4 linked regions of the Homo sapiens genome follow. The protein of the gene in region 4 purifies or fractionates together with the protein of the main gene of each other region. This does not show direct contact. Each region holds a gene or a part of one and is shown on either strand. Other genes may lie near its edges.

Region 1 (7,026 bases), on a different chromosome or scaffold from region 4:
CTAAAACTAATGGACGATGAGCAGGATATTTACAAAGTCTCAGAGTATCTTCCCCACAAATGTAACTGTGAAAAGGAAGACAGTAACTTTCCAGTGGAGAAACCTGGCCAATAGCATTTGAAGTCAGCTAACATGGCCAATAATGGCTCAAACTGACAGCATGTGCCTCTGGATAGTATACTCTGATGACAATATAGGCTGGGCGTGGTGGCTCATGTCTGTAATCCCAACTCTTTGGGAGGCCAAGGTGGGAGGATCGCTTGAGCACAGCAATTCAGGGTTGCAGTGACCTACAATTGCACCATTGCACTCTGGCCTGGGTAACAGGGCAAGACCCGGTTTCAAACCAAAACAAAACAAAAAACAGGAATACAACATGTCTGGTGTATTTCTGACAAGCGTATAACTTGATCCTTATTATGGGGCGGGGAGAACCCAAAACAATTCAAATAGAAAAATAAACTACAAAATAAGTGTAAGTGTTCAAGATTAAAGAAAACTAAGGAAACATGACAACCTGATGCAATGCATGACTCTGGACATTTTTTGTCTGAGTTATAGAGAATATTATTGGAACAAACTACTGAATCTAAATGAGGACTAAGACGAGGTGGCAGTATTGTATCAATGTTAATTTCCTGATCTGGACATCTACAGTTAGGTAATATCCTTACTTTACTGCAGTACGTAGGGCAAAGGGGCATATGCGCCTTGCAACTTACCATGCGGTCTAGTAAAAACATACATACAAGGAGAGAAAAGGACAAGGCAAATGTAGTCAGATGGCAATATTTGGGGACTCTGGGTAAAGGGTATATGGGAATTCCTTGCATTATTCTTGCAACTTAAGTATGAAATTGCCAAAATGAACAAAAACTGAACAAAACAAGCCAGCAGCAAAGGATTGGGTAATACTTAACCAAGCAAACAGGCCAACTTTGCATCTCCAGTTACAAAACATTCTCAAACACCATAAAACATCCTATTAATTTGTACTTTGTGATGACACTACAAATAAATTTAGTTTCCTGGTAATTATTTTATTTTTTCGAGACAGAGTCTTGCCCTGTTACCAGGTTGGAGAGCAATCACAGCCCAATCATGGTTCACTGCAACCTCAAATTCCTGGACTCACGTGATCCTCCCACCTCAGTCTCCTGAGTAGCTGGGACTACAGATGCACGCCATCACATCTGACTAATTTTTCTAATTTTTTGGAGAGATGGGGTCTCACTATGTCACCCAGGCTGCTCTCCAACTCCTGGGCTCAAGTCATCCTTCCGCGTCGGTGTCCCAAACTGTTGGGCTTACAGACGAGAGCCATCTCGCACAGCCCCTGATAATTATTTTGAGAGTCTGCTAAGATGGTGAGAGTCACGTCATGTGGAATGTGACTTTTGCTGTATAAGCAGTTTTTAAAAAAAATGTTAAAGTGACAATTCTGTTTTGGCCAAGTGCTGTTTAAAAGGGATGTCATTTTCTCCAAGTCCAAGCAATAGGAGGAGAACTGAGATTACATGAGATATGCTTTCTGGAATTTTAAAGCATTTTGAATTCACACATTACAGCAGTCCCTCTATTTTCAGTTAAAATCTTGATAAAACCCACTGATAAAGTAGTTGAAAATAATTCAAGAAAACTTACCGACCTGCCCTATCAGATATCAAAATGTACTGTAAATTTCTAGAATAAAACTGATTACAAGAAGCAAAACAAAACAACAAATGAGACACAAAAGAGCTAGTATTGCATGGCTCCATTTTACATGAAGTTCTAGAATGGGTAAAACTAATATCTGGTGAAGTAATCACAACAGCGACTTTTATTTTTGCAGGGGCTGGGAGGGGAGACGCACTGGGAGGGGCAGAAGTGATCTTTCTGATGACAAATGTTTCTTTTCTTTTTTTTTGAGACACAGTCTTGCACTGTTGCCCAGGCTGGAGTGCAGCAGCATGATCTCAGCTCACTGCAACCTCCGCCTCCCAGGCTCAAGTGATTCTCCTGCCTCAGTCTCCCGAGTAGCTGGGATTACAGGCATCCGCCACCATGCCCAGCTAATTTTTGTATTTTTAGTAGACGGGGTTTCACCATGTTGGCCAGGCTGGTCTCGAACTCCTGACCTCAGGTGATCTGCCCGCCTCAGCCTCCCAAAGTGCTGGGATTACAGGCATGAGCCACCACGCCCAGCCTAAATGTTTCATGTTTTCATCCCTACCTACCTCACACCACATGCAAAATACATTCTAAATTAATTAAACCTCCAAATGTAAAATGTAAAAATAAAACCATAAATATTATTCTTTCTATATATAACAGAGTTATACATATAGTTTTTTTTTTTTTTGAGACGAAGCTTCACTCGTCGCCCAGGCTGGAGTGCAGTGGCGTGATCTCGGCTCACTGCAACCTCTGCTTCCCGGGTTCAAGCGATTTTCCTGCCTCAGCCTCTCAAGTAGCTAGGATTACAGGCGCTTGCCACCACACCCAGATAATTTTTGTATTTTTAGTAGAGACAGGGTTTCACCATGTTGGCCAGGCTGGTGTTGAACTCCTGACCTCAGGTGATCCACCTGCATCGTGGGATTACGGACGTGTGCCACCGCACCTGGCCTTACAGTCATATTTTTAATAATTTAAAAGCAAAGAAGTCCTTTTAAAGCGTAACATAAAATCTAGAAGCCTAGTGATCAAAATACCACAAGTCGAATCAGATTAAATTGAATGACAGATTAAAACAATAGAAACATTTTATATGAGTCTTTATAACTCAATAAGACAAACAACCCAGCACAGAAATCGGCAAAGGGCATGAAAAGGCCATTCAGACGACACAAATGTCCAATTATCAGAAGAGTATAATCTGTGAAGAAATGCAAACGAAAATCTCACCTGCAGAAAAATGCAGATAAATACAATGAAATACTTTTCTTCTATATAACAGGCAACAAGGTAACAGGCAAACAAGGTAAGTTTGATGTTGAGTTTAGTGAAATAGGCACCGTCACCCATTGTTGGTAGGGTACAACCTGGGACAGCTTTTTGTTTTTGTTTTTGTTTTTGAGACAGCCTCACTCTGTCGCCAAGGCTGGAGTGCAGTGGCACTATCTTGGCTCAATGCAACCTCAGTCTCCCAGGTTCAAGCTATCTTCTTGCCTTAGCCACCTGAGTAGCTTGGATTACAGGCGCCCACCACCACACCTGGCAAATTTCTGTATTTTTAGTAGACGTGGGGTTTTGCCATGTTGGCCAGGCTGATCTTTTGATCCGCCCACCTCAGCCTCCCAAAGTGCTAGGATTACAGGCGTGAGCCACTGAACTTGGCCGGGACAGCTATTTGTAAACTAGCTATGTGAAAATAAAGGGCCATATCCTTGGAGTCTAGAATTCTCCTTTCACTAAGTTATCAAAAATTATATTACTTTGACCACACAAAGGTATTTATCTCTGGTTCGTGCAAACACTGAATGTTGGAAGTACCGAGTGATAATTGGAAATAAAAATCTCCAAACGTCTAGTAATAAAAAGACTGATGGGCTAAATTGTGTATTTATTCATACAGAAGATTATTAGCCTGTTAAAAAACAGTGAGATTTTGTATAGCAAGATCACGGGTTTTTTTAATGAAAAAAATATGCATACAGGTGTGTGCACATACCTATATATTTACTTTTTTCCCCCTCTCACTCTGTGCCCAAGCTGGAGTGTAGAAGCACACTCATGGCTCACCGCAGCCTTGACCTCTTGGGCTTAAGCAATCCTCCTACCTTGGCCTCCCTAGTAGCTGGGACTACAGGTGTGTGCCACCATGCCCAGCTCATTGACTTTTATTTAACTTTTTGTTTTTCTAGACACAGGGTCTTGCTCTGTAACCCAGGCCTAAGTTTACTTTTAAACATTGTACATACACACACAGTCTGGAGAAGTATGCCTAACTTTTAGTAGTGGGCTGTCCCGACTGTGAACAACTTCTGCTTTTTACTCCCATGCACGTATTTTAAAACCTGCCGGGCGCAGTGGCTCACAACTGAAATCTAAACGTTTTGTGGGGCTGAGGTGAAAGCACTGCTTGAGGCCAGGAGTTCAAGGCTGCAGCGAACTATGACTGCGCGACTACCCTCCATCTGAGTGACAGAGTGAGAACCCACCTCAAAAACAAAACAAAAACAGCAACAAAAGCCTGTAGTACAAGTATTTGCTTTTATCAGAAGAAAAAGGAAAACAAAAAAGGAGATCCACAGGCTCTGTTTTTTGCTTTTATTATTTCTTTCTCCATTGATTTTCCAGGACTCTTTGCCTTGGCAGAAGTATACTTGAGTAAAGGCAAAAACACGCAATGTATCATGAGCCACAGAAGTGACTTCATTCTGCTGTTCTCCCAGCACTTACCCCAAACACTGTGGCTGACACTGGGGCCTGACTCTCAGATATTTAAACCCAGTACTTCACCACCAAGTATTAGTTATTATCTCATTTAGTTTTGGGCCCTGAGAACCAGGCCTTCAATTACAGGTTGGGCAACCCTATCTGAAACTGAAACCTTCTGAGCACTGACATATTGCCACAAGTAGAAAATTCCACACCTGATGTGTGGAATTAGTGAAAGTTTTGTTTCATGCACAAAATTATAAAAAATATGGTATTAAATTATCTTCAGGTGTATAAGAAACAAATTTCTTGTTTAGATTTGGGCCCCAATCCCAAGATTATCTCATTATGCGTACGAAAATACCGCACAAAATCCAAAAAATGAAACCCTTCTGGTCCCAAGCATTTCAGATAGGGAAAACTCTACATGAACCAAGAGAACATTCGGTCTACAAGCCCAGCTTCAGCTGATTCTTTTTTTTAGGGGGATGGAGTCTTGCGGTCGCCCAGGCTGGAGTGCAGTGGTGCGATCTGGGCTCAGTGCAACCTCCACCTCCTGGGTTCAGGCAATTCTCCTGCCTCAGCCTCCTGAGTAGCTGGGATTACAGGAGCCCGCCACCACACCTGGCTAATTTTTATATTTTTAGTAGAGACGGGGTTTCATCATGTTGGCCAGGCTGGTCTCGAACTCCTGACCTCAGGTGACCAGTCCGCCTCAACCTCCCAAAGTGCTGGCATTACAGGTGTGAGCCACGGCGCCCTGCCTCAGCTGATTCTTTCTTAAGCCAATAGTTGAGTGTTACCAAGTTAAACCATTGAAGGGGAAAGAAAGATAAACAAGACACAGCCCTAGTCCTCATCAATCTGCTCTTGACAGAAGGCAAGATGACATAAATATTAAACCAAGGGGTAAGGAACTATGCCACGGGAGGACAGAGGACCCAAGGAGACGAGTTGCTATTGGTGGGATGGATCAGTTGTCTTTTGAGGAACTAGGTCTCTAAGGCAGACAGATGGGGAAGGGTGGGCGGAGCGAAGTCACAGAGAACCAGGAGAGTAAATCACGTGTTTGGGGCCTGACTAAAGCACAGGGTGTGGGGGATGGGCAAGAGAGATTTCGGTAAGATGGTGAGAGTCATGTCATGTGGAATGTGACTTTTACTGTATAAGCTGCTTTTAAAAGAAATGTTAAAGTGACAATTCTGTTTTTGCCAAGTGCTGTTTATAAGGGATGTTATTTTCTCCAAGTCCAAGCAATAGGAGGCTCAGGCAGTCCTACTTTTTGGACTCCATGTTGGAGTTCAGTGGTGCCATGATAGCTCAGTGCAACCCTGAACTCCTGGGTTCAAATGATCCTCCCGCCTTAGCCTCCCAAGTAGCTAGGAAAACAGGCGTGCCTCGACGCCTAGGTACTTTTTTTTTTTGGCAGTGGATAGAGGCAGCCCAGGCTGGTCTCAAACTCCTAGACTGAAACCATTCTCCTGCCTTGGGTTCCCAAAGTGTTGGGATTACAGGTGAGAGACACTGTGCCCCGCCCCCACCCCCCTTTTTTTTAAGAGAGACTGGGTCTTGCTCTGTCACCCAGGCTGGAGTGCAGTGGTGCAATCATTAGGTCATTGCAGGCTTGAGCTCCTGGGCTCAAGTGATCCCCCTCCTAAAACTCCCAAGTAGCTGGGATCACAGGTGCATGCCATCATGCCTGGCTAATTTCTTTTTGGTGGGGATGGGGGTCTCCCTATGTTGCCCAAGCTGATCTCAACCTCCTGGGGTCAAGTAATCCTTCCGGTTCAGCCTCCCAAGCAGCTGGGACCACAGATGCATGCCACCACACCGGGCCTTTAAAAGTTTTTTTGTAGAGCTGGGTTTTGCTATGTTGCCCAGGCTGGTCTTGAACTCCCAGGCTCATGTGATCCTCCTACCACAGCCCCGAGTCGCCTGGAATTACAGGCACACGCCACTGTGACTGACTCCCAAAAGACTCCTTATTTAAGGACCGCTGACAATCTACAGAGGAAAATGAATAAAGGACAAATACTCCTTCCATCCTCCATTGGAATTCCCAGATACCAAGAAAACAAAACACAGTAGAGAGATCTTGAAAGAAAATGCAAAGCTTCGCTGAAGGCTCCCAGTTCAGAGTGGTTCACAAGTCCAACACACAGACAAGTAAACGAGGCACATTAGCAATGTATTCGTTTTGAAGAAAGCACTTAACATGAAACTTGCTTATGAAATCCTCCATACCTTTGCTAGACCTCTTTGATGTTTTCTTGTTTCCCTCGGAGGTAATTTCAATTTCGTCAGGATTACCACCTTCATCTTCAATTGCCTAAAAAGAAGGGAAAAGTAAAGTTGATCCAAAAAGTCAGCTCACACACTGCTTTCAGAGAGCTCTCAGGTGACAAGGAAACTGTATTTTTAAGATCAAAAAGCTGCTGCCGCCCTCACCACCCAGGACCTGTGGCCCATCCACTCATCTGTTATCTCGCTCTACACTGGAGACCGACTGACGCCACCAGTTCTTAGCTGGGTGGTCCCAGGCAGGTTTACTTAGGTGCTCAGTTTTTGCTTCTTCCTCTGGAACATGCGGCTAATAATAATACAGTACTTACCCTGGAAGGCTGTTGTGAGGACTCTACTAGCCATGAAAAGGAAGCACTC
Region 2 (7,026 bases), on a different chromosome or scaffold from region 4:
GACTATAACTTCCTCCATGCTACTGTGGCATGCATCACACTGGGATGCCACCCATGTATTTACATTGGTTCCCCAACTGAAGAAAAGGGACCGCATCCTGTTCTCTCTGTGTCTTCAGCATCCAGCACAGAGCTGAGGTACAGCATGCGGGGGCGGGTGCTGCAGGGGTAATGAGGCCCACCTTCGATGGCAGTGCGGCACACCAGATGAGAGTAGGAAAAGTAGAGGGGCGTATCCAGGCGGAAGTAGGACTCCATGATGCGCCGCACCTTCTCCGTCACGTTGTAGTACAGGTGGGCACTCTGCAGAGGAACTTTGCCTTCTTGCCCCAGCTGCCAAGGAGACAGATGGTCAGCTGCCCTCAACGACTGATATGGTTTGGCTCTGTGTCCCTACCCAAATCTTATCTTGTAGTTCCCATAATTCCCATGTGTTGTGGAAGGGACCTGGTGGGAGATGACTGAATAATGGGGGTGGATCTTTCCCGTGCTGTTCTCATAATACTGAATAAGTCTCACGAGATCTGGTGGCTTTAAAAAAATGGGAGTTTGCGTCCGGGAGGTGAGGGGCGCCTCTGCCCGGCCGCCCCTACTGGGAAGTGAGGAGCCCCTCAGCCCGGCCAGCCACCCCGTCCGGGAGGGAGGCCGGGGGGGGTGGTCGGCCAGCCGCCCCGTCCGGGAGGGAGGTGGGGGGGTCAGCCCCCCGCCCGGCCGGCCGCCCTGTCCGGGAGGTGAGGGGCGCCTCTGCCCGGCCGCCCCTACTGGGAAGTGAGGACCCCTCTGCCCGGCCAGCCGCCCCGTCCGGGAGGGAGGTGGGGGGGTCAGCCCCCTGCCCGGCCAGCCGCCCTATCCAGGAGGTGAGGGGCGCCTCTGCCCGGCTGCCCCTACTGGGAAGTGAGGAGCCCCTCTGCCTGGCCAGCCGCCCCGTCCGGGAGGGTGGTGGGGGGGTCAGCCCCCCGCCCGGCCAGCCGCCCCATCCGGGAGGTGAGGGGCGCTTCTGCCCGGCCGCCCCTACTGGGAAGTGAGGAGCCCCTCTGCCCAGCCACGACCCCGTCTGGGAGGTGTGCCCAGCGGCTCATTGGGGATGGGCCATGATGACGATGGCGGTTTTGTGGAATAGAAAGGCGGGAAGGGTGGGGAAAAAATTGAGAAATCGGATGGTTGCGGGGTCTGTGTGGATAGAAGTAGACATGGGAGACTTTTCATTTTGTTCTGTACTAAGAAAAATTCTTCTGCCTTGGGATCCTGTTGATCTGTGACCTTATCCCCAACCCTGTGCTCTCTGAAACATGTGCTGTGTCCACTCAGGGTTAAATGGATTAAGGGCGGTGCAAGATGTGCTTTGTTAAACAGATGCTTGAAGGCAGCATGCTCGTTAAGAGTCATCACCACTCCCTAATCTTAAGTACCCAGGGACACAAACACTGCGGAAGGCCGCAGGGTCCTCTGCCTAGGAAAACCAGAGACCTTTGTTCACTTGTTTATCTGCTGACCTTCCCTCCACTATTGTCCTGTGACCCTGCCAAATCCCCCTCTGCGAGAAACACCCAAGAATGATCAATAAAAAAAAAATAAATAAATAAATAAATAAATAAATAAAATAATAAAAAATAAAAAATAAAAAAATGGGAGTTTGCCTGCAGAAGTTCTCTCTTTGCCTGCTGCCATCCATGTAAGATGTGACTTGCTCCTCTTTGCCTTCCACCATGATTGTGAGGCTTCCCCAGCCACATGGAACTGTAAGTCCAAGTAAACCTCTTTCTTTTGTAAATTGCCCAGTCTCGGGTACGTCTTTATCAGCAGTGTGAAAACGGACTAACACAACGCCCCTCTTTAGGGGCCAGAGACAATGAGTACCAGGCCCATCCCACGTCCCCACACCCCCACTGAAGCTGCAGCCTCTGCTGCCCACGCCCAATACCCCTACTATATTCCTCTTCCTCCTGTCCTTCTTATCTCTCTTTATGAGCACACTGTGCATCCTGCACAGAAGCACAGCCCTCTAGAATCAGCCTTTCTAAAGAAAGCATTCTCATAGCTTTGGCGAACAGTCTTATCCTGCTCACTTTGTTTTGATTACACTCGGTCTAACAGGATTCAAAAGTGAACCTCACGCAACATAACTCATCCTCGCTTCCTGGCAACAAGAATGTTGGCAGGTGGACCCTCTTCACCTTTCCTGCCACCAGCCCCAACTCTTCCTCAAAGCCTGAGCTTCCCCCTTCCCCACCCCTTTCTCCACACTCTAGAATGCCCAGTGTTGATCTTACCTTGAGGGCTTTGAAGACAGTGACACCATAGAACTTTTCATTGGGAGTATGTGGGGAGGTCTGACCCCGGTAGCCATCTCCTGAGGTTGCTGCCACCTACAAGGCCCAAAACACAAGGTGATGTTAGCCAGGGCAGCTGAGGGCTTGAGAAGAGGTGGTCAACTGTGGCCAGGAAGAGGAAGGCGAAGGCTACCACCCAAGGGGCACTTGGTGGGGGGATGCTGGACCCTTGGGGGAAGGTGCAGTCACTGGGCTTCCCTTACATTGGTCAGTCTCTGCAGCTCCTGACACTCGTGGTCAGAGATTACGCCGTCCATCACCACCCGCTGGGAACCATTCAGGAGTTTGGAGTTCATGGTGAGACTGATGCCTTCATACAGCAGGGGGCCACCTGCAAAGCAATGACAAAACTCTAGCTAAATCTAGCAGCAGCTAGACCAAAGACTCTCCATTGGATATTGCCTCCTCGTCACAAATAGAAATTCCAGCTGTTTCCTTTTCACCAGCAAAATCTCCCGCTAGGTCATTTTCAAAGGTAGAATAGTCCAGAGGACAGAACATAGAGCTGAAAGATGAGATTCCCAGTCCCAGCTCCATGACCAAATAGCTGCTGGCTTTTGGGCCATGACACACTCTTGAGGAAACATCAGAAACACAATCCTAAAACATGAGCTCGGGAACGAGGAAGAACTGACTTTGACTCCTAGATCCTCCATTGATTAGCTGTGTGACCTTGGCAAGTTACTTAACCTCCCTGAGGTTAATTTTAATTAATTAAAATGTTCTCATCTGTCAAACAGCATCTACCTTATATGTTTGATGCCAGTATAATGTTAAGAACAAGGAAGGCAAGTTAAAAGCTTAGTACAATATTTGGCATATGGTAAGTCCTCAAAAGTTTGGCTACCATGGTATCATCATCATTATTCATTTAAAATAAGGATCTTGCAATCTGCATGACTCACCTCTCAGTTATAAGAATCAAGAGAAATAACAAAGTGAAAGTGGTCTGAAAACAAAGGAATGCTGGACAAATTCTTTTCATACGCTAATCTTGTTTAATTAACCACTGTTAATTTAAGCAACTATAGGGCAAAGGTCAACATTTCTCTCTTACAGTTCTCATGGTGTTTCTCTGTGCTAGGGACATACTAATACTAGAGACTCAGTTCAACTCCACTTGATAACTGAGGCCTCAGTGTGTACCAGGAACTGTGCCAGATAGGGTGAGAGATGAATCCTAGAAGACAGTACCTGTTCTCTAACAATTATGCAAATAACTAGCATAAGACAGACCATAAATGCCCTAAGAAGTTCAAAAGAAAGGAGGGGACTCCAATCATCTGGGAGGTTAAGAAAGGCTTTACGGCAGGGCACAGTGGCTTATGCCTATAATCTCAGCACTTTGGGAGGCCAGGGCGGGTGGATCACAAGGTCAGGAGTTTGAGACCAGCCTGGCCAACATGGTGAAACCCTATCTCTACTAAAAATACAAAAAAATTAGCCAGGCATGGTGCCACATGCCTGTAATCCCAGCTACTTGGGAGGCTGAGGCAGGAGAATTCCTTGATGATCCCGGGATGTGGAGGTTGCAGTGAGCCAAGATTGCACCACTGCACTCCAGCCTGGGCAACAGAGCAAGACTCCATCTCCAAAAAAAAAAAAAAGAAAGGCTTTGCAGGGTATATCTCAGATGCCCTCATGGGCAGGGATGGTGGGAAGCGTACTAGGAGAGCCAGGCATAAACACAGACTGGTGGGCAGTGGGCGGGCTCACGGAACAAAGTGCAGTCCTGTGTGAAGAGACGGTGTAAACAGGACAAGAGTAGAACATTCGGTTAAGGGGCAGGCACGGAGGATGGGTCAGAGGCCAGTGTCTGGAAGACTGGCCTAGCTACCTTGTGTGGGCAGGGGCAAGGACAGGCCAGACGGGGAAAGGGTGGGTGCAGATAGGAGGTGCCAGGGCCTGAAGGAAGCCTGAGGCAATGAAAAACGGAAAAGGCTGGGGAGAGAGCTGAGAAGCACTGCAGAGCAGAGCCACAATCAGTAGGCCTTCCCAGCAGCTTGCAGAAAACGGGCACAGGAGGAAGAGGAGCCAAAGGAGGCCTGAAGGCGTTGAGTCTCAGTAAAGGGACGAATGGTGAAAACCGGGAGAAAACAGTTTGGGAGTGGGGAGACAGGATGAGTTAATACCTATGGAAGTGGACAACACTAGTCACTCATGTTTCTGTGACACAGAAGTCTCATTTCTTTCTTTTTTTTTAAAGATGAGGTCTTGCTATATTGCCCAGGCTGGATTCAAACTCCTGGGCTCAAGCGATCCTCCTGCCTCAGCCTGCCAAGTAGCTGGGATTACGGGTGTGCACCACTACATCCTGGAGTCTGATTTCTGAGCCAAAGGCTGATTCTCAGTGCTCTTTCCAGCTGAAAGTCCCGCTGGTGAGTTAGGAAGGATGTCCACTGAACTTGCACCCTAAGGGTGGCTGGCTCATGGTGAGCTCTGCAATGCTGGGGTGGAGCGCTGCCTGGCAAATGTGGGGTGACCTGCCTGGCTCCCTGACAACAGCCAGACATGCCCCTATTTCTGTCCTCTCACCTTCCCGGGTCAGTCTGCTCACATCCAGTGACTCCTTGGTCTTCTCTTCCACAAGGGTCTCGATTTCCTTCATAAGGTTCCCAATCTCCTGGGAGATGCGTACGGCTGTTTCCCGTTCTGACCTATGAGCACAGCCGCTCTGAGGACTGCATTCCAGGGCCAGCCCTGGGCTCCACCCCGACTTCCCAAACTGGACCTGCCCACCCCTTGCCAGGAGTTCACATCTGCCTGGGCTCAGGAAGCCTCAAGTGCTTCATCAGACTGATCCAACCATGCAGTTTCTTCAAGGTCCTCACTTCTGTTTCTCTTGCAATCTCTTGGGAATCACTTCTTCTGGAGTCCATGAATCCTAAGTAGGTCAGGAAGAAATGAAAAAGGTAAGATGATCTACTTAATCTTCCAGGTGTCTCAATGCATAAAATAAGGCCCACAGGAGTAATCCAGCTTATCACCCTCTTCCTTTCAGGAGACAAAATGGGAGGTTTCCACATCTAAGTCCCTTCTAGCTGCCCAGTGTTCCCCTTTCATCTGTCTCTCATCCCTGCCTTGCACAGATCCCAGGCTAGGCTCAGCCTCCAGCAAGTTTTCTCTCAGAATCGCACAGTGTTCCCCTCCTCCCCATTCATCTCTCCTGCTCACTCTTTCCCCGCTCCCTTCCGGCTCCTGTACCCTAGCTCACCGGATCCACAAAGGGAATTCCAAAAACATCATAAGCGAAGAAAAGCAGTTCTTTTTCCAGTAGGCTTCGCTGTCGGTACTCCTTGGCACTCTGAGGGTAAAAAAGCAAACAAATCCCCCAGAACTCAGCCCTGTCTTTTAACCTCTGGGAGTTCCCCTCCCTGGCACCCCACACTGATGCTCCCATGTGACCTGAGGCCTCCTCTCCCTACCAATGCTCTCTGTCTGTTCCCCAGTTTGAGACAAAAGTCTAATTTCTGTGTCCTCTGCCTGGCACAAGCAACAGTACCTCTGAGGTACTGGAATAACCAGGCTTTCCTTAAGGGAAAAAGCCCTGCTCCTCCCCCATCCCAACCCCCATTAGTCTCTAGGACAGATAATCTGATGATTCTCAAAAGTGGAAATATTCTTCAAAGAAGGAGAATTCCTTCTTGACTTCTACAGGAGTCCACAAAGCAGGAAAAGGAATCAGGCATTAGGCAACTGACATGTTATTCATTTGATCTTTTATAGCCACATCTGAGGTTGATACTAGTATGCTCATTCTACAGAGGAAGCATCTGAGGCACAGAGGAGATGTACCACTGTCTAAGGTGACACTACAGGACATGGGAGAGCAGCGACCTACAGTCAAACCCAGGTCTTCTGTTATCTTTTTCTTTTTTTTCATAGCAGAATGTGCATTTGGACAGATAAAGCCGGGTCTTTACAGTCCTAAAGCCCATGTGCTTTCTGCTCTGCCACCTGCCTCCTCTCAGACCCTAACCAGACCACACCCCTCCCTGAGGATAAGCAGCTAAAGGGGAGGGCCTGGCACTCTGGGCTTCCCACATGGACTCCCAGGCAAGGCTTACCCAGGGCAGGGAAACTGAGTACTTTCCGGGGTCACATCTTTCCCTAGGTGCCCTGCTAATCTCCAAGCAGCAGGAGGAGGAAGGAAGAGAAAAAGGAGACATCAGTTGAAATAAAACATGAGGCAGTTCAAGGAGGAATTAAAGGAGTCAATGAATCCTATGTCATCTACTATATTTACCTAAGAGGAAGAGAGACGTTTTCTCTTCAGGAGTTTACATTACTGGCTTCTGTCACCAAATGCTATGTTATCTCATTTAACCCTCTCCAATGACCCTATAAGGCTGCTATGAAGCAAACCCCACTTCCATCTTTATTCATTCGATGCTGATTTACTGAGTGTCAGCCATGTGTCTGGAGCTGTGCCTGCACTGGGTCCAAGCAGGGAACAGATTCCGGTCACCACTGACTGGCCACAAGCCACTGCACAAGTTACTTCATCTCTCAGATGCTAACAGTCCTCATCCCTAAAGTGGGAAGAAGAGTGCCAACCTTGCAGGGTGGCTGTGATGATTAAATGAGATGATGGATACAGCCCACCCCGCACAGAGCTTCGCCTGGACAGCGGCTCAACAAATGTTAGTTGCCTTCTTTCCAAAAGGGGACTTCTAGTTAAAAATGCTAGATTGGCC
Region 3 (7,026 bases), on a different chromosome or scaffold from region 4:
ACCTAATGTCCCATTCAATACCCCCTAACAAGGGGAATAATTATGATTTCCTCTGTGACACTGCTATGTCCTGTACACATACACATATAACCCAAGGTTGTAAAAGCAAAACAAGGCTGGGCACAGTGGCTCATACCTGTAGTCCCAGCACTTTGGGAGGTCAAGGCAGGTGGATCACCTGAGGTCAGGATTCAAGCCACCCTGACCAATATGGTGAAACTCTGCCTCTATTAAAAATACAAAAATTAGCCAGGTGTAGTGGCATGTGCCTGTAGTCCCAGCTACTGGGGAGGCTGAGCCCGGGAGAACTGCTTGAATTCAGGAGGCAGAGGTTGCAGTGAGCTGAGATCATGCCACTGCACTCCAGCCTGGGTGACAAGAGCAAGACTCGTCTCAAAAAAAAAAAAAAAAAAAAAAAAAAAAGAAAGAAAGAAAGAAACAAGAAAATTTGTAGTTTCTGTAGAGCATCTCATGCCACTAACCCCAATATAACAAATCCTCTGCTCAACAATAAAAACTGAGTTCTAAAGGAAAATACATTAATATAGCACTTGACAAGTTACAAGTTACAAAGTACTTTTGCATATACTATATCATTTGATTCTCTAAAAAAAAAAAAACAACAACAAAACAGACAAATACTGATACTACCATATCATGTTTTTTTTTTGGTTTTTGGTTTTTTTTCTGAGACGGAGTCTCACTCTGTCACCAGGCCTAAGTGCAGTGGCCTGATCTTGGCTCACTGCAACCTCCACCTCCTGGGTTCAAGCGATTCTCCTGCCTCAGTCTCCTGAGTAGCTGGGACTACAGGCATGCACCACCACACCCAGCTAATTTTTGTATTTTTAGTAGAGACGAGGTTTCACCATGTTGGCCAGGATGGTCTCCATCTCTTGACCTTGTGATCCACCTGCCTCGTCCTCCCAGAGTGCTGGGATTATAGGCGTGAGCCACCATGCCCGGCCCATATGCTGTTTACAGAGGGAAAAAACTGAACCTCAGGGGAGATACTTGCTTAAAGCCTGCGCATTTATAAAGTAACATAGTAGAGATTCCAACCCTGGTCTTCTGGGCTTTAGATCCCAAATTCTTTCCTTCTCTTTTCATTATAGTAACAAAATAATAATAATAACAAATATTAATTAGTCATAATTGTCCATGTAGAAATTAAAACTTAAAAGCTTCCAAATTCATTGAATTTCTTGACACAATTTAAGGACTAATGTATAAAAAAGAGCTTGGCTAGGATTTCCTAATTACTTCAGAAGTTTTGGAAAACTCCATAAATTTATTGTAAACTGATTAACTCAATACTACAGTAAAGCATGTTTCTGAAACAGCTGTTTCAATGATTCAGAAATGAAAGCAAGTATCACTAATGTATGTACTTCCCTATTACCACATATTAAAACTAAAATTCATTTTGCCGGGCATGGTGGCTCACACCTGCCATCTCAGCACTTTGGGAGGCTGAGGTGGGCAGATCACTTGAGGTCAGGAGCTCGAGACCAGCCTGGCCAAGATGGTGAAACCCCGTAAAAATACAAAAGTTAGCCCAGTCTGGTGGCACACGCCTGTAGTCCCAGCTACTTGGGAGGCTGAGACAGGAGAATCGCTTGAACCCCGGAGGCAGAGGCTGCAGTGAGGCAATATGACACTACTGCACTCCAGACTGGGTAAGAGAGCAAGATTCTGCCTCATAAATAAATAAATAAATAAAACTAAAATCCATTTTAAAAGTCCTTTTATCTAGTACTAAGCATCACCCCATAGTAACAAAGATGCTTATCAGTGAACCTGGCTAGGAAAGCCGCTTTTTGCTATTTGAGTGCCCACAAAAACATAAAAATTAATCAACTTTATTAATGCAGTATCCTCAGTATTCACTGAGATTTCTAAGGTCTGTCATTTATTTCATTCTATCTCAACACAAATGTCATACCTTCCCTCCCACTCCCAGTTTCCACCCAATAGGTTTCCTTCCCTTTGTTTAGTGGACTACAAGTCCCCGCTAACCATCTCTAGCTGTAAATAGGGTCATTATGAATACACATCCACAATGTAAATAAACTTAGAAAAGGAACAAAAATATGTCAGCCAGATTAAATTTCTCTAAATTAAATATACCTTTGCAAAACTGTCATTTCCTAAAATTCACAAAGTTAGCTATTCAACAAAACAATAATCATTTGTCTTTTGAAAAACAAAGTTCAGAAAGTACATACCTGAAGGATTCTGAACAAATCCAGGATTTTGTGGATGAACTGGTAAAAACTGTTGTCCTTGACCAAAAGCTACTGGCTGAGCAACACCACTCAGAACCTTTAAGAAAAACCTTAATTTTAAGAACATGCTTTCTATATTTCAAGTAAAACTTTTAACATCCTAATTACATAAAAATATTCATAGATGTCACAAGGCCTGGCTTATAAATAAAGATTTAGAAAGATAACTTGGCTGCATCACTTCACTTCTAGGTCTTCTACAAACAGGAACAATAAAACCTTCCCTTATCTGTTTCATAGAGGTATAAGTTACTGAGAATGGGTTAAAACTTCTTTGAAAAGTTTAAGGTACCTACTAGAGAGGCAAAGTAGCCCCCCAAAAAGGAAACTGTAAGATACCATGCAAATATAAGGTAACTAGCTGTGTTACTTTACACAAGTCACTTTACCTTGCTGGTGCTTTCCCTTATTTTACAAATAGAAGAACTGACATAATGCAATATGATCTATACACAATCACAAGGGCTAGTTAGGAGCAAAACTGAGGCCAGAACTCCTAACCCTTGCCACTTTTCCACAGATATCAAAAGCCTGTTCTAATTAGCATTCTGAATTACCAAGCAGGTAAGCATCTTGCTTGGCCATCATCTTTGCACATGGTTATAGCCACATTACAAAGTAATCTTGTAAAAGGTCTTGTAAAAGATGTCAAAGGGAATGTTAAAAAACAGAATAGTCATGGAGCAAGAACTATACTGGCATACAAATACAGCATTTGCAGTCCAGAGGGAGGCAGGACTTCTACATATTGCTGGTATGTGAATAAATATCCATTTATAATCCTTGTTCAGTATACATGTGGACTTTTGGTAGTGAGTACACATAATAAAAACCCCACCGATTCTGTGTAATGTAGAAACAAGACTAAGTAAGTACCATTCTAGAGTATCTGTCAATAAGAGTATCATTTCTTTCAAGGATATACAGTAGAGTAAATCTAGGCAAGCCAACTGTTTTTTCGTACCATTAGAGATGAACAGAAGGACTACTTTCTATCAATAATGTTCCTAATGTACTTTTAAAATCTTTCTTATTTTGTATTTTCTTCCATGCAATCTTACTACTATAAAATAAATCTGTCATAGTAAGAAAATGTCTGCACCTGGAAAAGAAGTAAAACTCAGCCTAGGAGAATTTCAGCACGCAAGCAAAAGTAGTCATTCAAAACCAACCGAATTAATCACAAATTGTAAACATACTGCCTTAAAGTTGTCTCAGTATGCATTTTAAAATGTATACAGAACAAGTGTGAAAGAATACCAACAGGTAACAGTGCATGTTTCGTAACCAGAGTGTATTTGGAAGGCTATTCGCTATGTTGTCATTAATATCAAACAATTGTGTTTAACTGAAGTGACTGGAAAGGTGGTAAAAAGTAGGAAAAAAGGACCAAAAAAAAAGAATTGTAGACTGTGAAAGCAGGGACACAATTTGATCTTCTTATTTAACTCAGGTTAAGGAAATTCTTGGTCAAAGAACAGTTCAATCAATTCTATGGCTACCTTAAAGCACGTCAGGGCTCAACAGTTCTGCAATGTAGAGGTCTATGACACACAATTGTATAATATCTCAAAAGCTTTAAAGCAAAAAAAAAGGAAAAAGAAAAAACAGAGCTGGAGGTGGGGGTTTGATTGAGATATTTCCCTAGATCCTGAAAGAGCTAAAATCAATTTTGGATTTAAGTTGCAAATTTCATCCCCAAAAGATGCTCATCCCACTTCCTTAGCATGTGGCTTTAGAGTACATTAAAAACTTCTTTCCAATCTACACAATAAACTATGTCCTGAAAACCCTCCTAGAAACATTAAAAAATGGTTAACTTATCTGCATACAACGCAATTTTAGAATAACAGACTTACCTGTTGAGATGCCTGAATATTTCCTACTGTCATTGGAGCAGGTATATTGCCAAAGTTTCCAAATTGAGAACTCTGAAGATTTTTTTCATCAAAATAGTGTCCAGAAGCTCTGTTAAGTGGATTAGAGAAACTCTGGTTTCCAGGGCCATGTGGTCCATTAAAATTTGGTCCTTGAGGTGAATCAAATATTTGTTCATGTCTTTGGAACTGTAGTCCTTGGGATGGGGCATTAAAAGCATTGCCAGGTGGATCATTATATGGACCAGTCTGATTGAAAGATACTGATTCAAGCCTTTGTGAAGGATGATTGTCAAATCTTGTGCCTTGAAGACCAAGAGGAATATCAAACCTTGATGCTTGCTGATGTTGTGGACCATCAAATCTTTGAGGTACACCGTCAAATCTGGGTTGAACCTGCTGTCCAGGTGGTCCATCAAACCTCTGAGGGCCTGGCTGACCAGGAGTCCTTTCAAATCTAGGACCTGGCTGACCATGTAATCCATCAAATCTTGGCAAGAGTGACGGCTGACCTGGCTGCCCATCAAACCTTAAAGCATGACAACCTTCAAATCTTGGACCACCTTGACCCAGAGGCCCTTCAATTCTCAGGCCACCTCCTGGTACAGAAGGACCCTCAAACCTCATTCCACCTCCTTGTTGGACTAAAGGGCCTTCAAACCTGATACCAACCCCTGGCTGACCATGTGGACCCTCAAACCTAAGGTTCCCACCAAGTTGATTATGTTGTCCCTCAAATCTCAGACCAGCTACTGACTGACCATGGGGGCCCTCAAACCTCATTCCAACCCCTTGCTGTAGCAAAGGGCCCTCAAATCTGATTCCACCTCCTGGCTGACCATGAGGTCCATCAAACCTAATCGCAGCCCCTGATGGACCATGACCCCCCTCAAATCTAAGTCCACCTACAGGCTGACCTCGGGGATTATCAAATCTAAGTCCACCCACAGGCTGACCATGAGGTCCCTCAAACCTTAGACCACCCACAGGTTGACCACGATGTCCCTCAAACCTCAGACCACCCACAGGCTGGCCTCCTGGTCCCTCAAATCTCAAACCACCTGGAGATCCCTCAAACCTCAGACCAGGGGAACCTTCAAACCGAAAACCACCTCCTCCTGCTTGACCAATTGGGCCCTCAAACCGCAGAGGTGTCCCCACTGGTCCTGGAGGACCTTCAAATCTCAAAGGACACCCACCTCCTAGCTGACCTTGTGGCCCCTCAAATCTCAAAGGGCCTCCTCCCCCCATTTGTCCTGGTGACCCATCAAACCGAAGAGAAGCTGGTGTGGGAGGTCCATCAATTCGAGGGCTTAATTTATTGGGTCCTTCAAAAATCATCTTCGTTGGGCCATCTCTTGCTACTGATGGCCTACTAGGTCCATCAAATAACGGTCTGTCTTCAGCTAAAGCTGTAAGTCGCTGATTTGTATCCAGGCCGGCGAATCTTGATGCTGGACTATCTACAAATGGTTTATCTGAATCTTCATATCGAGGTCGCTTAAGTGGAAAACGATCATTGAATGGAGATCTCTGCTCTTCTCGCACACCTTTTAAAAAGGAAAAAAATTATTTTCACTAAAGTTATCTTAAAATCTTCTATTTTCGTATGAATGTTTATCCAAATATATAACTATCTCACTACATTAGAGGGGCAGGAGAGACCGACAGCGTAAAGCAGCAGATAAGAGGATGCCCTCTAGAGTCAGACACACCTGAGTAACAAAAAAATTACCATCCTATCAACATACTAATTATTTCATTTTGAGAGCAAGTTATTTAACCTCTCTTTTATTTCCTATCTGTAAAATAGGGAGAATATACACTTCATTGTATTGTTGTGAGGATTAAATCAAATTACATATAAAAAATACCTAATGAAGTACCTGACACACAACTGGCCTTAGAAATATTAGCTCCCTTCCCTTCCCTTTCCTTAAAGGGAAAAAACATAACAAAATAAATGGGAAAAAAAATGGTAATCTGAACAGTCACAAAAATCCATCCCCACTTAGCTTGTTCATTTTCCCTTCACTGCTGTGTGATTCAATAGGCATAATCTGATTTAACTTTTTCTACCTTTAGCAGAGACTTGCTCGTCATGTCTTCTCCGGCCCTCATGGGGTGAAAGATTCTCAGCATAAGTACGACTCCCAGATATAGGAGAAAGACGTCTTGCTCTTTCACTAAATTGTTCTTTTCTGTCAAACTGTGCTCCACTATTCCTACTTGCATGTTTACTTTTGGATGGCTCACATTCTATTCCAGACAACAAGGCATCAGTCAAAGGGTAGTCAAAAATATCAGGATCTAAGAGATCAAGTCTTGGAAATGAATGCTGAACCTGTGTCCTTTTCAGTTTTGCTTTATGTTCATAGTAGGTTAATTCAGCATCAGATAAGAGAGGTTTCTTTTTTAATCCACCTTTATTTTCTTCTGTAGGACTATCCCGTACATTGCATCTATGTTTACCTTCTTGATACTGAAATAGCTGTCGAATTTGATGCACAACAACAAGGAAGTCATCCTGTGTAATTTCACCAGATGCTAAACGTTCACTCGTCTGTATAGGGGTGATAAAAGGAAATAAAATATTTTAAATATAAAAAAATACCAAAAAAATAGACGATAGATAATGATGACTACATGGGATTAATCATAGTAACTACCTTTTGAAGTAATTCTCTTTTGCTTGCAAGAGTTAACTCTTTAGGAATCTGAAGATTGGCATCTACACTTAATCGATGCTGTTGCTGCTTTGGGGCTCGAGGTGATAAAATTCCTTTAGTGCTTGACCAGCTCTCCCTATGCCTCAGATGAGGAGGTTTACTATGTTCATCAACCTGTTGTAAGCTGAAACC
Region 4 (7,026 bases):
ACAAGGGACTGGCTACTCCTTATGGGTTCTCTTTAGTTCTTAGAGGTCTTTGGATGTCACCAAGCTGAGAACAGCTGGAAGGGGAATTTGAACATCTTCCAAACCTCTCTATTACTTGAAGTTGAGAAGAAAGTGATTCTGTCTCACAGTAGCATATCAATTCAGTTTAAACTGCATTTATACTCAAGTGTAGTAATTACTAGCCCAATATTTAGTAATTGTAGATTTTAAAATTCTGGCCAAAACTAAATAATTTAAAAGTTGAATTGTTTAGCGCGAGTGTGGTGGCTCATGCCTGTAATCCCAGCACTTTGGGAGGCCAAGGTGGGCAGATCGCTTGAGGTCAGGAGTTGCAGACCAGCCTGGCCAACATGGTGAAACCCCATCTCTATCAAAATACAAAAATTGGCCGAGTATGGTGGTGCCTGCCTGTAATCCCAGCTAATCAGTAAGCTAAGCAGGAGAATCGCTTGAACCTGGGAGGCAGAGGTTGCAGTGAGCCAAGATCGGGCCACTGCACTCCAGCAAGACCCTGTCTCAAAAAAAAAAGATTGAATTGTTCAAAATACATTTGTTGAGTGTCTGTTATGTGCCAACAACGAGGGATACAAAGTTTAGGTAGTCTCTACCCTTAGAGTACACTGTAGGGGAGCTGAGAGATACCTACATACAGTAGTGCACACGTATCCACAGTTCCACTTTCTGTGGTTTCAGTTACCCGTGGTTCTGAGGTCTGAAAATATTACATACAATAAGGTAGTTTGAGAGATACTATATTTAGCTAACTTTTATGACAGTAAACTGTTCTACAATCATGTGTCGCTTCACGATGGCGGTATGTTCTGAGAAGTCCATCTTAGGTGCTTTTGTCATTTGTGATCATAGAGTGCTTTTGCATTTCAAACCTGGAAGGTACAGCCTACTACACATGTAGGCTATATGGTGTAGCCTGTTGCTCCTAGGCTACAAACTTGTACAACATATTACTGTACTGAATACTGTAGGCAGTTGTAACACAGTGGTATTTGTGTATCTAATATATCTAAACAGAAAAGGTAAGTGAAAATCTTGATATAAAAGATAAAAAGTGGCACACTTGTGTAGGGCACTCATGAAAGGAACCTGCATGATTGGAAGTTGCTCTGGGAGAGTCAGCAAGTGAGTGGTGGGTGAATGTGAAGATCTGGGACATGCTGCTGTAGACTTCATAAACACTGTACAGTACACTCAGGCTACACTAAATTTATTTAAACTTTTTTCTTCAATAATACATGAGCTTACTGTAATGTTTTCACTTGATTGATTATTTTCTCACTGTCATCCAGTCTGGAGTGCGGTGGTGCAGTTGTGGCTCACTGCAGCCTTTATCTCCCAGGCTCAAGCAGTCCTCCTGTCTTAGTCTCCAGAGCAGCTGAGACTACAGGCATGTGCCACCATGCCTGGCTAATTTCAAATTTTTTTTGTAGGGATGAGGTCCCAGCTAGTCTCCAGCTCCTGGGCTCAAGCTGTCTTCTTGCTTTGACCTACCAGTGTTGGGATTACAGGCGTGAGCCACTGTGACTGGCCCGTTTTTACTTTATAAATTTGGACTCTTCAATAATAACAGTTTAAAATACAAACACATTGTGTAACTATATAAAATATTTTCTTTATATCCTTATACTGTAAACTTACTTCTTTTTTTTGTTTTGTTTTGTTTTGAGATGGAGTCTCGCTTTGTCACCCAGGCTGAAGTGCAGTGGCGCGATCTTGGCTCACCGCAACCTCTGCCTCCTGGGTTCAAGCAGTTCTCCTGCCTCAGCTGGGATTACAGGCACTCACCACCATGCCTGCCTAATTATTGTATTTTTAGTAAGAGACGAGGTTTCACATGTTGGCCAGGCTGGTCTCGAACTCGTGACCTCAAGTGATCCTCTTGCCTTGGCTTCCCAAAGCGCTGGGATTACAGGCATGAGTCACCACACTGGGCCTAAACTTTTTTCTATTAAATTTTTTTTTTTAACTTTTAAAATTAATTTTATTTTAGAAGAGACAAGGTCTTACTGTGTTGCACAGGTCTCAAACTCCTGGCCTCATGTGATCCTCTTGCCTCAGCCTCCCAAAGGAGGCTGGAATTACAGGCATGAACGACTGAACCTGGTCTTTTTTTTTTTAAGCTTTTTTTAAAAACTAAGATATACACACATTAACCTAGGCCTGCACAGGGTCAGGATTATCAATATCACTGTCTTCCATCTCTGCATCTTGTCCCACTGGAAAGGTCTTCAGGGGCAGTATGATGCATGGGCTGTCATCTCCTAGGATAACTGCCTTCTTCTGTAATACGTGGTGAAGGACTGACTTGCCTGAGGCTGTTTTACAGTTAACTTTTTGAAGTAGGAAGAGTACACTCTAACATAATGATTAAAAGTATGGTATAGTTGGCCTTGGTGTGGTGGTTCACACCTGTAATCCCAGTGCTTTGAGAGCCTGAGGCGGCAGATTGCTTGAGGCCAGGAGTTCGAGACCAGCTTGGCCAACATGTCGAAACTCCGTCTCTATTTAAAAAAAAAAAAAAAAAAGTGTAAAAACAAAAAAGTATAGTATAATAAATACATAAACCAGTAACACAGTCGCTTATTGTCAAGTATTGTGTACTGTACATAATTGTATGTGCTATTCTTTTATATGACTGAGAGCACAGTAGGTTTGTTCACACCAGCATTACGAGCCCAAACGTGAGGAATGCATTGGGCTAAGATCGCTAAACAATAGTAATTTTTCAGCTCCATTATAATCTGACCACCTGGACCAAAACATTGTCATGCATGACTAAATTGTTCTCTTTTATTAGTTATTTTTTACAGTGCCTACTTTATAAATTAAACTTTATCGTAGGTATATATAAAGAAAAACATAGTATATTTAGGGTTCCTTGCTTTCCGTGGCTTTAGGCATCCACTGGGGGTCTTGGAACATATCCCTCTCAGATAAGAGGGGACTACTATAATTATAGCACACTGACAGGTCCTATATTGTAGTTACCATTCTTTTATGTTTTATGTGTAAAGTTTTGTTGATCTGGAGAGGAAAGTCAAAAAAATTCTGTGAACTTTAGGGAAACTTACACTGCTTGCATTGAAGTAGTATGTTTTGTTGCTTGTTTGGGAGTCAGAAACTCTTAATGTGGAATTTAGTTTCTGCTCTGTCAGGCCATCACCGATAGCACAAATTTAGTAATCTGACCACCCAGCTTTAAAATGGAAGTGTAGGCCAGGTGCGGTGGCTCATGCCTATAATTCCAGCAGTTTGGGAGGCTGAAGTAGGCGGATCACTTGAGGTCAGGAGTTTGAGACCTGCCTGGCCAACATGGCGAAACCCCTGTCTCTACTAAAAATACAAAATTTAGCCAGGTATGATAGTGCACACCTGTAATTCCAGCTACTTCAGAGGCTGAGGCAGGAGAATTGCTTGAACCTGGGGGGCAGAGGCTGCAGTGAGCTGAGATCAGGCCACTGTACTCCAGCCTGAGTGACAGAACGAGACTTTGTCACACACAAAAATAGATTAATTACTTTTAAAAGAATGGAGGTGTATAGAGGCAGTAGTTGGAACAAAGAATTCACTTAGGAGTTACGGACCTGGACATCCGATAAGTCAGTTTTTATGTCATGAATCATTTTGCTTTACGTTCAGTCATTATGTATGTATTCTAGCCAATTGTTGAGCCAATTAATGAAAATAAATTTCTTGGACAAATATCAGAGAAACATTGTTTATGATTTATTTATGTTTACTAGAAAACCATCTGAAATAAAGCTGTCAGGTTGAGAATGAGCTAGGTAGAATTGATTCAGAAAAATGGATAGAAATGTTCAGGGAAGCTAGAACTCTTCTCTATTTTGTTATTTATGGGTGCAGTTAATTTAGTTGCCTGTGAATTGTCCACTATGGTTTATGTGGCATATTTTTAGTACCAAATTCCTTACCATTATATAAGGAAGGGATTTTTACAGGGATTACTAGCCAGTTTTAATAACTACTGAGAACATAATTAGATAAAACCAGAAAATGATATATTTTCTTTAAAAATGTATGCATTAGGTTATCTGCTATTGGATTTTGCATACTAGTATTTCTTTTCCGAGGTATAGGATATATTTTGTAAATGCAAAATGTAACTTCCCCCCTTCATATATTTCTCTAAATGGAAATAATTTAAAATAGGCTTTGAAACAAGTGGCCTTTGCTGTGCATTTACTGATAGTATCATATAATGCACGAATTTTGTATGTATTTATGTATTTTTATGGTAGAGATGGGATCTTCCTAAGTTGCCCAGGCTGGTCTTAGACTCCTGGGCTCAAGGGATCCTCTTGCCTTGGCCTCCCAAAGTGGTGGGATTAACAGGCATGAACCACCATGCCTAGCCTCGAATGATATTACTGTAATTTTAGAACCATCAAAAAAATATCAGGCCTGTCAGGGAGAATGATGAATATTTTGACAGCCAACAAGTTCATCCCAATAGTGGTATACAGTATGTATCGTATATCTGTGATATTAAAATTGTAAGAGGGGTAATTAGGGAAAAAATGTCTAAAAGTAACTTCTTGAAGGGAGGGAGGAGACAGGGATAATGAAAAGGTTGAGAAGCCATACTTTAAGGGAACTAATAGGATTTTGGTCATTTTGCCATCCATTTTCTCTGGCTTGGCAACAGATATTTGTATATCATGTGGAGCATAATCTTGTTGTGTAAAATGTTGAGAGAATACCTTGTCTAAAGAATGATTGTAGTGATTTAGAATGGTAGGGAATGAAAAAAATTAGTGAGTTTTTTTTTTTTTTAAACAAACCCTAAGAGCTGTTGTTTATTCCAAGCTTTATGTAACATAGCTGGCTAGCTACTATGAACAGCAGATAAGATTGGGCAACATTTGGTATCAAAGATAATTAGAGGAATGATGTTGATATTTTCTTGTTTTTTGAATGCCATTAAAATTAAAAGTAATAATTGAAAAGACCCTTCATGTAATAAAAAATGATACCGTGAAATATTTCTTTGACAAACTGGAAACCTTTTTTTTAGTCTGTTCAGTAGGCTCACAGAGCTTTATTTATATATGACCTGTGATATACATTTTGCATAATTTCTCATGCAAACATCATGCATATTTTCTCACTTTATGAAGTAAGAACAAAGTTCAGTATGTTCTGTATTTTTTTTTACGCTGGAGGATTGATGTGATATGAAGCTGATTAAAAGGAAGGTTACTGATAACTACAAAAGAGTGTGCTTTGAGTTTCATTTTTAGTAATGGCAGCAAATGTATTCAGATTCATTATGTTTTTTCACAAAGTTTAAATGTATACCATTGGGGCTAAGTGTACAGGCTGTGGCCTTGGAACAGAGAGAAGCTAACTAGTCCACATGGAGATCAAACCCCAGGACCATGGTCTTAATTAGGATCGTACTACAACCACTTGGAAGCAGTACAACTACCAGACAAAATGGCTGATCCTAAATATTGGTAGAATCATATCAATGTGGAAAATTGGTTTGTGTCAACATAGGAATTCATGGATGGACAAAAATAGTAAGTGATTGTGATATACCAGGTTAGTGTAGCTGCAATTATGCTTGTAAATTTTTTGTCTACTTATGTAAACATTTTCACAGGTTTGTAGCTAATAGAAGAAAACAAAGAATCTGTTCACCTATTTATGTAAGTGAAAGTGTAAATTTAAAAATACATTTAGTCCTGCTGTTAATAACCCTTCCATTCTTTTTTACTTTCCCTCAGACCATATATTGTGATTATAGTTTCTGCTGAGGAGGATGGAAACTCAACTCCCTTTGAATAATATTAGTAATTCTACTTGATGTTCAGAACCGGATTGCAAGAGAGTTTAAAGTGCCCAACACCCCTTGTGGGAAACTTTTTAGTATCTTAAGTGCATGGAACTACTGCTGCAGCCACACCGCCTGAAGCTTCAGCCACACTGAAACTTCATAACAAAACTTACCCTCTTTTTTCCTAATTTCTGTGGTCATTGCAATTTGAGCATGTTACTTTGTTTAACAAAAACTCATTTCTTAAAGATTATTTTAGTATTGCTGTACAAACAGAATAAAATTATGGCATTATTCAGTGACTTGTGGTCTTAGTTTCTGCCCTTTGTTAAATTTAGCTTTGTTCTCTGATTTAACCTTGAGATCCCAGACCCCTTATTAAATAAGTCTTATAGACATTCTACCTCGTAACAAGTAAAATTGGTATGTAAAGATTCTGTAACTAGTAAATTGGATAAGTCATTAATTACATAAACGATTACCTGATGATTACTTGAGGTCCCTTTATTTAGGAATATAAATGATATTTCCCCTACTAGGCTTTTTTCTTTTTCTTTTAAAAAGATCTTATTCTCGGCCGGGTGTGGTGGCTCACACCTGTAATCCCAGCACTTTGGGAGGCCGAGGCGGGCGGATCACGAGGTCAGGAGATCAAGACCATCCTGGCTAACCCATCCTGCCTAACACGGTGAAACCCCATCTCTACAAAAAATACAAGAAATTAGCTGGGCAAGGTAGCGGGCGCCTGTAGTCCCAGCTACTCGGGGGGGGGGGGGGGGGCTGAGGCAGGAGAATGGCGTGAACCCAGGAGGCGGAGCTTGCAGTGAGCCGAGATTGCGCCACTGCACTCCAGCCTGGGCGACAGAGCAAGACTCCGTCTCAAAAAAATAAATAAATAAAAATTAAAATTAAAAAAATACAAAATAAATAAAAGATCTTATTCTGGCTCTCCTTTAAATAGCAAAACAGTAGCCTGGGCCCATAATATCTTGTTGCTCTGTTTACCATCATATAACAAATGCTTTTCTCTGGGTCATTCTATCCATTTAGGGACTATTTTGGCTAATAGTCCCTAAAACCATTAGCTCCTCCATATGTGCCATTTGTATAATTCTTTAGTAAATTGTATTAATGGGAGAATCTGTAAGTTACGTCTGAACTTTCAGGTTGTCTTATAATTGTCTTTTTCC

Evidence for each region.
Region 1: the proteins of CPSF6 (region 4) and SAFB purify together in Homo sapiens (affinity purification with mass spectrometry; 2 studies listed by BioGRID and IntAct, with this or other methods). This does not show direct contact.
Region 2: the proteins of CPSF6 (region 4) and P3H1 purify together in Homo sapiens (affinity purification with mass spectrometry; 2 studies listed by BioGRID and IntAct, with this or other methods). This does not show direct contact.
Region 3: the proteins of CPSF6 (region 4) and PCF11 fractionate together in Homo sapiens (co-fractionation; 2 studies listed by BioGRID). This does not show direct contact.

What each region holds. Positions count from the first base shown.
Region 1 is NC_000019.10:5,626,073-5,633,098, reverse strand, and holds part of SAFB (scaffold attachment factor B1), read right to left. Parts: intron 6,695-7,026; coding exon 6,610-6,694; intron 1-6,609. UniProt on the Homo sapiens protein: Binds to scaffold/matrix attachment region (S/MAR) DNA and forms a molecular assembly point to allow the formation of a 'transcriptosomal' complex (consisting of SR proteins and RNA polymerase II) coupling transcription and RNA processing.
Region 2 is NC_000001.11:42,750,005-42,757,030, forward strand, and holds part of P3H1 (prolyl 3-hydroxylase 1 isoform 1 precursor), read right to left. Parts: intron 6,452-7,026; coding exon of another isoform or gene 6,397-6,451; intron 5,634-6,396; coding exon 5,544-5,633; intron 5,214-5,543; coding exon 5,161-5,213; coding exon of another isoform or gene 5,093-5,160; intron 4,987-5,092; coding exon 4,865-4,986; intron 2,661-4,864; coding exon 2,533-2,660; intron 2,366-2,532; coding exon 2,270-2,365; intron 333-2,269; coding exon 182-332; intron 1-181. UniProt on the Homo sapiens protein: Basement membrane-associated chondroitin sulfate proteoglycan (CSPG). Has prolyl 3-hydroxylase activity catalyzing the post-translational formation of 3-hydroxyproline in -Xaa-Pro-Gly- sequences in collagens, especially types IV and V.
Region 3 is NC_000011.10:83,167,117-83,174,142, reverse strand, and holds part of PCF11 (pre-mRNA cleavage complex 2 protein Pcf11), read right to left. Parts: intron 7,019-7,026; coding exon 6,835-7,018; intron 6,729-6,834; coding exon 6,245-6,728; intron 5,716-6,244; coding exon 4,148-5,715; intron 2,326-4,147; coding exon 2,229-2,325; intron 1-2,228. UniProt on the Homo sapiens protein: Component of pre-mRNA cleavage complex II, which promotes transcription termination by RNA polymerase II.
Region 4 is NC_000012.12:69,242,554-69,249,579, forward strand, and holds part of CPSF6 (cleavage and polyadenylation specificity factor subunit 6), read left to right. Parts: intron 1-7,026. UniProt on the Homo sapiens protein: Component of the cleavage factor Im (CFIm) complex that functions as an activator of the pre-mRNA 3'-end cleavage and polyadenylation processing required for the maturation of pre-mRNA into functional mRNAs.